Linked DNA regions of Homo sapiens: region 1 is linked to region 2. The links come from fine-mapping of genetic effects on gene expression. A gene starts in region 2. The other region holds a variant in brackets. All regions are shown on one strand. Distances are between the middles of the regions. Region 1 overlaps LMO2 (LIM domain only 2). Region 2 holds the start of LMO2 (LIM domain only 2).

Region 1 (5,375 bases), 32 kb after region 2:
AGAGCCCCAGCTTCTCCCTATCTCTACCGTTTTATATAACATTCAGGAATAAAACCAGTGCTGCCTGGGCTTGTTAATCCTTTCCATTTTCAAAAAGGAGAGGAAAAAAAAAACAGTCTGGGAGAACCCAATGTTAATTAACTTGTGTCTTGGTGACATGAAATAATTCTTCTCCCTGCCACATTCCTAGGCAACATGTTAATTAACTCTGCATTAGTGCAGGCATTTCCAGCCATTCTTTAATATTTATATTATTGTTATTAAAATGGGCAGCAGAGAGCTTAAGATGGGACATCTCTTGACAGAGGAGAAAAATTGTCTTTTGCGTCAGGGATGGTCCTTTAGCCAAGGTCTTGTTTACTGGCATTCTTAGTATATCTGGCAGGATCTTTTAACAAGGCAAGTTGGAGGAGTAACTGAACGGGCCCTCTAATGTGTTTGAGTTCTTCACCCCTAGGATAACTTGTCCCCGTGAGGATTTCCAATGGCTGAGTTGCCTGTTACAGTTCTTTTCCGACATTTAGCTTCAAACATTCATGAGACCCCCATGCAGAACCTCAACTCTGCTGCTGTGTTGTATTGTTGGGAACCCAAGAGCAGCTGTTCATGTCTGTGCTGAGCCAGATCTCCTTGGATCCCTTTTCACTAATTCTTGTGTGCTGGGAGTGGTGGGGTGGCGGTGATGGCAGTGGTTTTGCTTTTAACAGCCAGCACCTGAATCTGTTAGAGCCAGAAGTATGCCTGCCCCAACTAGACCCCCAACGGACCTTAACCAGTGACAGACATGGTGGGAGTACCAAGCCCCGCAGCCTTGCCTGGAGCCAGGCATAACTTATATTCCAGGGTCCCTCCCCTCTGAGGGACTTTGCCTGAGGATACAACTTGGCTTGGCTTCCTCCCCTTCCCTCCAGCCTCCCCTGCTGCCTTCCAGGTTTTTCCTGAGAATGCCTCATTCATAAATCACTGGCACATCAATCCTTGCCTCAGGGGCTGCTTCTGGGATATCCAGCCTAAGATACCAATTCTTGGTGCCAGAGGTTAATGCTCAAGTTAGGTGTCAAGTCCCGGCTTATTTTTTACTAATATTAGAATCTCCGAATCCCAGAGCTGGAAGGGGCTACAGAGACCTTCTTTTTCAGTTCCCTTGCTTTATGGCTTAAGTCACAGAAGCCTGTACAGGGGACTCCATTTGCTCAGGTCACCTGGCAAGTTAGAGGTCATGCTGGGACCTGAACTTGTCTCCCACATATTCGTCCTTTGTCCTTCCCTTCATAGCTGCCTGATGTGGGTTGTAATTTACCCCCTGACTTCCCTTTAATAAGCTCCCTCCTTCCTTAAGGATCGCACACCCCAGGCAGTTGGATTCATTCCATGCACACTGTTTTCTCAGTCGTTCATCCTTGCTCAGGCCCAAACTTAACTTACAGAGCAGTCAGGAAACCAGAACTGTCTTTCCACTCTGTGACCTCCAATGTGGCGGTTACCTGCAGCTCCACCATCTGCTACGTTGGGATAAAATGTTCTCCCCCCAGTAATGAGTTTGCTCCCAGGCGGTGCTTTGAAAACACTCAGAGATCTTCAAATGGAAAGCAGGATTCAGAGGCAAATTAGCTGGCCCTGGCCCGAACAATGAGCTCTCCACTCACAGACCACCTCTTGTCAATTCCATTAATCTCGCCCAAATATTGCAAAATGTGTCAACTGCCCTTAGGTCCCCTACAACCTCTCAGAATGTACCCACTGATTCTCTGATATCCTGAAATCAACCAGAACTTCCAATAAGAGCAAGCATTCACCTAAAACTGTCCTAAAGGTTTTATGTAGAAACCACCTGCTAACATGCTATGTTTTCAGCCACGAGTGAAAATTACTTCCTGCAGCAAGACTGGCACAGCTGGGAATACACCCAAGATGTGTTAAAACATAACCAGCGTTGGCTTAGCCCTTGACCATGGGTGCCCTGACATGCTTCGTTTGGTTGTTTTAACAGCTGAGTGAGGTGGAGCCTATGATGGCTGCCATTTCACTGAGGCTCAGAGAATCAGAGGTCTCTCCAGGGTCACTCAGGGCTGGTCCGGGACATTGAAGCTGGGTCTTCTCTGCTTCCGGTACTTGTGTTACTGCACTTTTGCTGTTG[A/C]TTCTCAAATGTCAGCCTGCAACCAGTCCCCCGGAAGTGTTCATTAACGCACAGACTGCTGGGCCTTCTCCCCAGGGTGTCTCAGTTGGGTAGGGAAGGAGGAGGGCTGAGAATTTGTTTTTTTGTTTGTTTGTTTAGTTTTTGCTTTTCTTTTGAGTCAAGGTATGGCTCTGTGGCCCAGGCTGGAGTGCAGTGGCATGATCTCGGCTCACTGCAACCTCCACCTCCCGGGCTAAAGCCATCCTCCCACCTCAGCCTCCCAAGTATTAATAGCTGAGACTAGAGGCATGCACCACCGCACCCGGCTAATTTTTGTATTTTTTGTAAAGACACAGTTTCACCATGTTGCCCAGGGTGGTCTCGAACTTGTGAGCTCAAGTGATTTGCCTGCCTCAGCCTCCCAAAGTGTTGGGATTACAGGTGTGAGCCACTGCGCCCAGCCTGAGAATTTGTATTTCTGTCAGGTTCCCAGGCAGTGCTGATGTCGCTGGTCCCAGGACCAACACTTTGAGAACCACTGCACTGAGCCCTGCCATGTTCTGTCTCCCACCTTGACACTGAATACTGCCTGAAATAAGTGACTGATCAACTGAGGCTTGGGAGAGTCTTGATTTAAATGTCAGAAAAGAAGTTTCCCTTTTGATTCATGCCAGTGGGCAGCGAGGGCCATGAATTAAGATCCTCCCTTCATGGTGGAGAGATGCTGTTGGTCCTCCATATCTCAGAGGCACGATTAGCTGCACCGCGTGTTTTCTGTGGAACTCCCTGTCTCCCAGCAGCTGGGGCCCCAGCGAATAATCAGGGGGAGATGTGCTTTGCAGCTTATGGAGGTATTCAAGGCCAGCTCTCCCCATGGGTAGAATCAGTGGCTGTTGACATGATAGAGTTTGGGAGCCTCAGAAGAATGCCCGTTTTATTGCATTCCTGGTCAGTACCCTCTCAAAGGGGCCCCTAGGGTCTCTCTCCAGCTGCTCTTCTGAAATGAGGGTTCCCCTGGGAGGGGACAGGTAATACTTGCCTAACTCCTTATGATAGATCACATCAGCTGAGAGCCTTGCCCACAGAGGAGGAGCCAGGGGGCAGCCTAGGGGAATGATGAGCGGTTGCTGCAGACAAGGAGAGGGCTCAGAAAAGGGAGGAGTTATGCCAGATCCAAATGCCAGTTTCATCTGAGTTCCCTCTGCCTGCTGGTGAAGACTGCACTAGCCGGCCCTCCTTCTGGAGCCGACCTTCCCTGGCTTCCTGACATCCTGAAAGTTCGGCCTCCTTTCTAGGGCTCATCCCCGAGCCCTGTCTTCCAGGATTGTCCCTTTCACTGTCTTCTTAGCTTTTCTTTCTTTTGCCCCAGGCTTTTTGGGCAAGACGGTCTCTGCGCATCCTGTGACAAGCGGATTCGTGCCTATGAGATGACAATGCGGGTGAAAGACAAAGTGTATCACCTGGAATGTTTCAAATGCGCCGCCTGTCAGAAGCATTTCTGTGTAGGTGACAGATACCTCCTCATCAACTCTGACATAGTGTGCGAACAGGACATCTACGAGTGGACTAAGATCAATGGGATGATATAGGCCCGAGTCCCCGGGCATCTTTGGGGAGGTGTTCACTGAAGACGCCGTCTCCATGGCATCTTCGTCTTCACTCTTAGGCACTTTGGGGGTTTGAGGGTGGGGTAAGGGATTTCTTAGGGGATGGTAGACCTTTATTGGGTATCAAGACATAGCATCCAAGTGGCATAATTCAGGGGCTGACACTTCAAGGTGACAGAAGGACCAGCCCTTGAGGGAGAACTTATGGCCACAGCCCATCCATAGTAACTGACATGATTAGCAGAAGAAAGGAACATTTAGGGGCAAGCAGGCGCTGTGCTATCATGATGGAATTTCATATCTACAGATAGAGAGTTGTTGTGTACAGACTTGTTGTGACTTTGACGCTTGCGAACTAGAGATGTGCAATTGATTTCTTTTCTTCCTGGCTTTTTAACTCCCCTGTTTCAATCACTGTCCTCCACACAAGGGAAGGACAGAAAGGAGAGTGGCCATTCTTTTTTTCTTGGCCCCCTTCCCAAGGCCTTAAGCTTTGGACCCAAGGAAAACTGCATGGAGACGCATTTCGGTTGAGAATGGAAACCACAACTTTTAACCAAACAATTATTTAAAGCAATGCTGATGAATCACTGTTTTTAGACACCTTCATTTTGAGGGGAGGAGTTCCACAGATTGTTTCTATACAAATATAAATCTTAAAAAGTTGTTCAACTATTTTATTATCCTAGATTATATCAAAGTATTTGTCGTGTGTAGAAAAAAAAACAGCTCTGCAGGCTTAATAAAAATGACAGACTGAAATACAGTGTTGTTTATTTGATTACGACTTATAATTTGGGATGGCGGGGAAATGCTCTGCTTTTTCTTTTCTAAAGGAGAAGCAAATAAGCAATTTACTCTTAGGTCAAATAAAAACTTCTGTGTATTGCAAGGGTTTGTATGAGGCAGGCACATTTCTATATTACTGGCAATTATGTAACAGGTCATCATGTAGCTCAGAGGAATGTAGAATAATTAAATTGTTATTGTACAATATGCATTTCACTTCAGCATTGTATGGAGTGAGTGGAAGGCAAGATCATTGCCTTTGGGAAACTTGTAACCTAGAAAGGACACAAATACATAAAGCAGATTCCCTTTGGGAGAGAAGGTAATTACCTAGTTTGAAATGTGGCAAAGATGCTGAGCTTGACACTTCGATTTTCCAAGACGGGTGTCTCAGGGTGTTTTATGACAAGTGGTTAAGAGGACCTTTACTTTGCGGATTTAAAGCAGGCACCTTGGTTTGTGTGTTTGCCTTCCCCGGAGTCAGGCCGCCCCCATGAACTGATGCAGAGCGCCACCTTCTGGCCATCACCTTAAAGCGCGCTAGCCCAGGAGGGTCCCGACGTAGGACAAACCTAGATGAAGAAGAATATGCTTTTCAATGATTTCCTTAGAGTACTCGGAAATGCAAGAAGTCTAAATGTGTTCAGTTATTAAGACACAAGAAACATGCAGCTAAGGCTGCATGTTAACTATAAGATTCCTTTAAATCTTCCTAAGGTTTGTGATCTTTGTTATTTTTAATTTTTTTAAATCCCTGGACAGAGAGACAAATGATTTTTTTTCTTCTAGAGGAGAAATAATGAAGTGATGGCTCTCTTGGTCTGTAAAATGCTACAAGTAGTTGGGAAATTTGACTGCTTAAG
Region 2 (5,375 bases):
GTTGCAGCGAGCTGAGATCACGCCCTGCTGCACTCCAGCCTGGGTGACAGGAACAAGACTCTGTCAAAACAAAACAAAAAAAAAAGCTAGTATCCTTCTCTTAGTGTTGCCCCCTGCAGAGGAACTGTTTTTTTTTTTTTTTCTTTTAAAGCACCCTACATCACATAATGTCAGCTGGACTTTTCTGTGATATTAACACTGGGATCCTGTAAAACACTATATTCTGACCATAGTCTGACACTCTGCATAATGAACAATTAGCCGGGAAAACATAGTATTTGAACCTCCTTTGCAGAGAGGAAATTCTCACAACTCCAAAGCAATAGTCAGCCCACAGTCAATGCCATCTCATCACCCAGCCCAAGGCTCGGCCTAAAACCTTCTAGAGGGTCTCACTCTAAAGATAACCCAAAGGTCTCACAGCTTCCTGGTTGCAAAAACGACAACAGGAGCAGGAATTGAGACCTAAAGATCATTTGGGTAGAAATGAGGAAAGAAATGACATGTTAAATGATGATTTTTCCCTAACTTGCCTTGTTCTTTCTAGATGTGGCTCAAGAACTTGCAGAGTTATGGTGGGATAATTCGACTGATCAAATGCTGAAAGTTTTCCTATCGACTTCAAGGCTGTTCAAATCTCTATGTACTTTGAAGTCTGAGGCACAAGATAATTTCCCAGAGATTCATGTTTCTATCGATGCTAGGCTGGGCTGACACAGATAACCCCTCAAGAGGCCTTTCCGAACTGCTGTATAAACTGTCCTGGGTCCAGCAATAAAGCAACTGTGTCATTATAGTTCTCTGCCCTTCAGAAGATCTGATCTTAATACCCTTCTCTTCTTTTTGTCCCTCTGATTTCATCAAATTTGTTGCCATTCTGGGTGTTTCTCCTTCTCTCCCCGACTTTTTCTACTTCAGATCAAAGAACTTCCCCTTTTTCCCACTTTTGGATTTGCGCCCTGGAGGACAACGCAAGGTTAACTTCCCTCCCACCTCCTCTTGTAGGCACACAGGGTGCCCCTTAGCCAGCGAAATCTCCGCGCCCGAGATCCTCTCACAATTTCAGGCTGGTGAATTGTAGTAGGAGACATGGTTTAGTTTGATGTGGTTAAGTCAGTCATCATGGCATCTTCGTACCCTCAGCCCCAAACCGCTCTCCTACTCATCACCCTCACTTTCATTTCTTTGGATTATCTTTCATCGGCTTACCACCAGCCTTCACAGCCTCACCCAAGGCTGAAGCAGGGCTAGCAGGGTGGTGCGTTTCCTTCCCTGGTTGAGCTGGTGACTGCTGTGGGTAAGCAGGTCCAATGTGAACTCAATTTTACATTGAGAAAGAGAAAGCAAGAGTGAGTGGGCTGCTAAGACTGTTGCTTCATGGTTTCCCCTAAGCCCCAGAAATAGAAAGGCAGACTTCCGACTGGCAGAGCCCGTATGCTAACCACCAGACCACACTGCCAGATAAGAAAAATGTTCGATTGTGTCATACTTCCCTCATTGGCTCCAGTGTCTGAAAATGGCCCTGAATTTCAGAGAGTCTTACCATGACCCAGGGATTTAGAGAGGATCGAAGAGGGAGGACAAAGGAATCAGGCACCTTCTCTCTCTCTTTTCTGGGGTAAATTTATTTTCAACCACAAAAGTAAAGGAAAGAAAAAGTCACAACAGATGAGTTATGAGCTAACTTTCTGATTTGCACATGTAAGAGAAAGAAATGAACTGGATATCATTAGACATTGAGAAAGGGAGTCTGCAAGCTAGCAATGTATCTTCGGCCTTTTTGATTTACACGTGTTTATTTATGAGTACCTACTGTGTGCCAGGCATGATGCTTGGTGCTGCCAATTCAAAGAGAAATAAGACACCTCCTTGCAAAGTGAGAAGGCAGAACTAGATTCAGATTCACCTAGATTTCAACTCTTGTGCTCAGGCCACCACCACCACCATGGAAACAATTTTGCTTGACTCTCCCGGCGCAGCCGCGGCAGGCGTGTGTGTTGTCAGACACTGCAGGAAGAGTGATGGCCTGGGTGTTGACAGGCTCCTAATTGGAAGGTAGGAGGTGCCACCAGAGATCAGCTATAAAAGATATCTTTGGACTGGGGTGGGCTGCTAATGCTTGGAAGAGACTTGTGGGTGAGGCCCGGTGAGCTGTCACCTCGGAATTGGGCCTTGCCCAGCAGACAGACATGCATGCGGGGGAGGTAGCTGACAGACAGGGGCGCATGGGGAAGCAGCCATTCCAGAGAACTGCAACAGCAGATTGCAAACCAGGACTTCAGGACTCAGAGGGGGACAAGGAAAGGAGAGCCTATAGTGGCCCCAAAGCCCAGGGTCAGAGGCAGGGCCAGGAGAGCAGCTGACAAGAGCTTTATGGTAAGGACAAAAGAGAAGACAGCCGGAGTCTCCTTTTATTCAGCTCATAAAGACCCAACTTCTGTGCACTTATAACTGTTCAGACCCTGAGGGGTTCAAAAAAAGAACCGTGTTAGGAGAATTCAATATTTAATTAAGAGATGATCAGATCCGTGCACCGAAATTATTGCTGGGTAAGACAATACTGTGTGTGTTACATAGCATTGGAACTTAGGAAAGCTCTTTCCTTGTGTTGTTTAATTTAATCCACTCAACAACCCTGCAAAGTGGGTACCATTGTCCCTGTTTTTTATGAATGAGGGGGTGAGGTGCTGAGAAGCTGTGTACGTTATTTGAGTTTGTCTGGCTAGTCAGTGGCTGAGCCAAGTTCCAATCCAGGTCATGTGAGCCTCTGAACTTTCTGATAAAACCTGCAGACCCCCTTAACTGGGATAATATAGTCATGCATTAAGCAAGAAGGAGAAGTAAATACAGGCTGATGGTGTAGGGGAGAAATTCAAAGGGAGAAGGCCTAGGAGGGAGAGGGAGCTATGTGTGAACAGAACCAAAGATGGCCTCTGGGAATTGGAAGGTCTCTTGGAATTCGTCCAAACTGAGGATCACAAGTCTCCACATTCTGAGTAGGAGGATGAGGGTCTGAGTTAGGATTTGGGTCCTGCAGGGCTTGCTAAGGAATCCCCTGATGGCCTAGGATTCCACGCAGAGCACATCTGGTGTGAGAGAGCTCGCTGCAAGGGTGAAGGCTCCGCCCTATCAGATAGACAACCAGGCCACCAAGAGGCCCAGCCCTCCAAACCCTGGATTTGCAACATCCTCAAAGAACAGCAACGGGCCTTGAGCAGAATTGAGAAGGAAATACCCCCACCTGCCCTCAGCCGTTAAGTGGGCTTTGCTATTCACAAGGGCCTCTGGGTGTCCTGGCAGAGAGGGGAGATGGCACAGGCACCAGGTGCTAGGGTGCCAGGGCCTCCCGAGAAGGAACAGGTGCAAAGCAGGCAATTAGCCCAGAAGGTATCCGTGGGGCAGGCAGCCTAGATCTGATGGGGGAAGCCACCAGGATTACATCATCTGCTGGTGAGTAGGCTTCATTAATTCTCTGATGAATGGACGATTGCAAGGGAACTTTTTTCATCTTCAAGGAGCCAGAAGAAGTGGTGATTAAATTGGTCTTTTAAAATAAAAAGACTCCAAAGGGGTACAAGTCTTCAAGCTTCCCCTGTGGTGTTCCGGGCACTCTGGCTTCTCTTTCGGAGGGAGGAAGAGCATCTATTCATAGGCTGTGACTTGGAGAGGCCCCACGGTGAGTCAGGCGCTTGCTGTGTGAGCCGCTGGTTGCTAATGTCTTCGGGAACTGCTAATTTACCCATCTAATTTGTTCCTGTACACTGGCCACAAAGGGAGACCACTCAATTATTCTGATCCAAAAGAGAGGCTTGTGTTTACCATGATCTCCCCAGCAACTGTGTGAGTGTGTGTGCATGTGTGTGTGTGTGTGTGTGTGTGTGTGTGTGTGTGTGTGTGTTTGCCTAACAACCTTAGGCAATGACGAAGAGGTGGGGCTGCTGCCCTTGTTAGCATTTTCAAACACATTCCAGTTCTGAGTTGAGGGCAAAGATTGTAATGGGGTGCTTCAGAGAAGCCTTGGCTCCCAAGGAGGTTATAACTTCAAAGGGTGTTTTTGAAAAACCAAGGCGGATGAGGAAAGTGGCTACAAGTTCCTTCCATCACAGAGGATCAATGAAGGGGAACAAAGATTTGGGAGCATCTACTTTGTGCCAGGTACTGTGCTTGGGTTTTACACGTCTTCTCTTGTTGACTTTGCATAACTCCCCTTTGAAGCAGATATTACTCCAGGTTCTTGCCGTAATGTTTCAGCTTAAAGAAAACCAACCCATACTTCTTTAGGTTGCCCTGAAAAGGTGAATCTTCTGTGAAGCCTTTTCTGTCTTTATCTGTTAAAATTAATTAAGCTCTTGTTTGTGCTCCCAGAAAATCACTTTAGACCTTAGAAAGATGGCAGCCTCAGTTTTCTCATTTGTAATATAGGGGTACCCATAGGGTCATTGTGAGAAATAATAGAAATAAATCATGGAAGTGCTTGGATAGTAGCTGGTACTTAGCCCTCATCAGTCATCATTGTCATTGTTGTTAAGAGTAATAATAATAATAATATCACTTATTATAATTACTCACCTCTAGGTTTTTAAAAAACTTACAGGCCGGGCACATTGGCTAACGCCTGTAATCTTAGCACTTTGGGAGGCCAAGGCAGGCAGATCGCCTGAGGTCAGCAGTTCAAGACCAGCTTGGGCAACATGGTGAAACCCTGTCTCTACTAAAAATATGAAAATTAGCCACGCGTGGTGGCTCATCCCTGTAATCCCAGCTACTCGGGAGGCTGAGAGAGGAGAATTGCTTGAACCCGGGAGGCGGAGGTTGCAGTGAGCCAAGATGGCACTATTGCACTCCAGCCTGGGTGACGAGAAACTCCATCTCATAAAAACAAAAACAAAAACAAAAAAACTTACATAAATTTATGGGGAACAAGTACAATTTTGTGACAAGCGTAAATTGCATAGTCTTGAAGTCAGGGCTTCTAAGGTATCTATCACCAGATTGATATCTATTGGTATCTATCACCAGATTGATATCTATTGATATCTATCACCAGATTGATATCACCACATTGTACCTATTAATTAATTTCTCATCATCCTCCCCCCACCCTTCTGAGTCTCCAGTGTATATTATTCCATACCCTAATGCCATGTGTTCACATTATTTAGCTCCCACTTATGAGTGAACAGTGTGATATTTGTCTTTCAGTGTCTGACTTTTTTAACTTAAGATAACAGCTTCCAGTTCTACCCATGTGGCTGCGAGAGACATGATTTCATTCTTTTTTATGGCTGAATAATATTCCATTGCATATATATACACCACAGTTTTAAATCCAATCATCCATTGATGGACACTTAGGTTGATTCCACATCTTTGCT

The links. PIP is the estimated chance that this variant, and not a neighbour inherited with it, causes the effect.
Region 1: its variant is fine-mapped to the expression of LMO2 in whole blood (TOPMed, PIP above 0.99).

The regions. Positions count from the first base shown.
Region 1 is chr11:33,857,686-33,863,060 of GRCh38, reverse strand. LMO2 (LIM domain only 2) reads left to right here. Exons shown (of 6, transcript NM_005574.4): 6 at 3,486-4,485. The coding sequence ends at 3,705. Among named protein-coding and RNA genes, the nearest start is that of LMO2, 32 kb to the left of the region's middle. RefSeq lists a silencer at 4,909-5,082. The variant A/C (reference allele first, on the strand shown) is at 2,138.
Region 2 is chr11:33,889,870-33,895,244 of GRCh38, reverse strand. LMO2 (LIM domain only 2) reads left to right here and starts at 3,169. Exons shown (of 6, transcript NM_005574.4): 1 at 3,169-3,450. LOC105376621 (a long non-coding RNA gene) reads right to left here and starts at 1,299. Exons shown (of 3, transcript XR_931176.3): 1 at 1,210-1,299. RefSeq lists enhancers at 1,057-1,226, 3,604-3,713.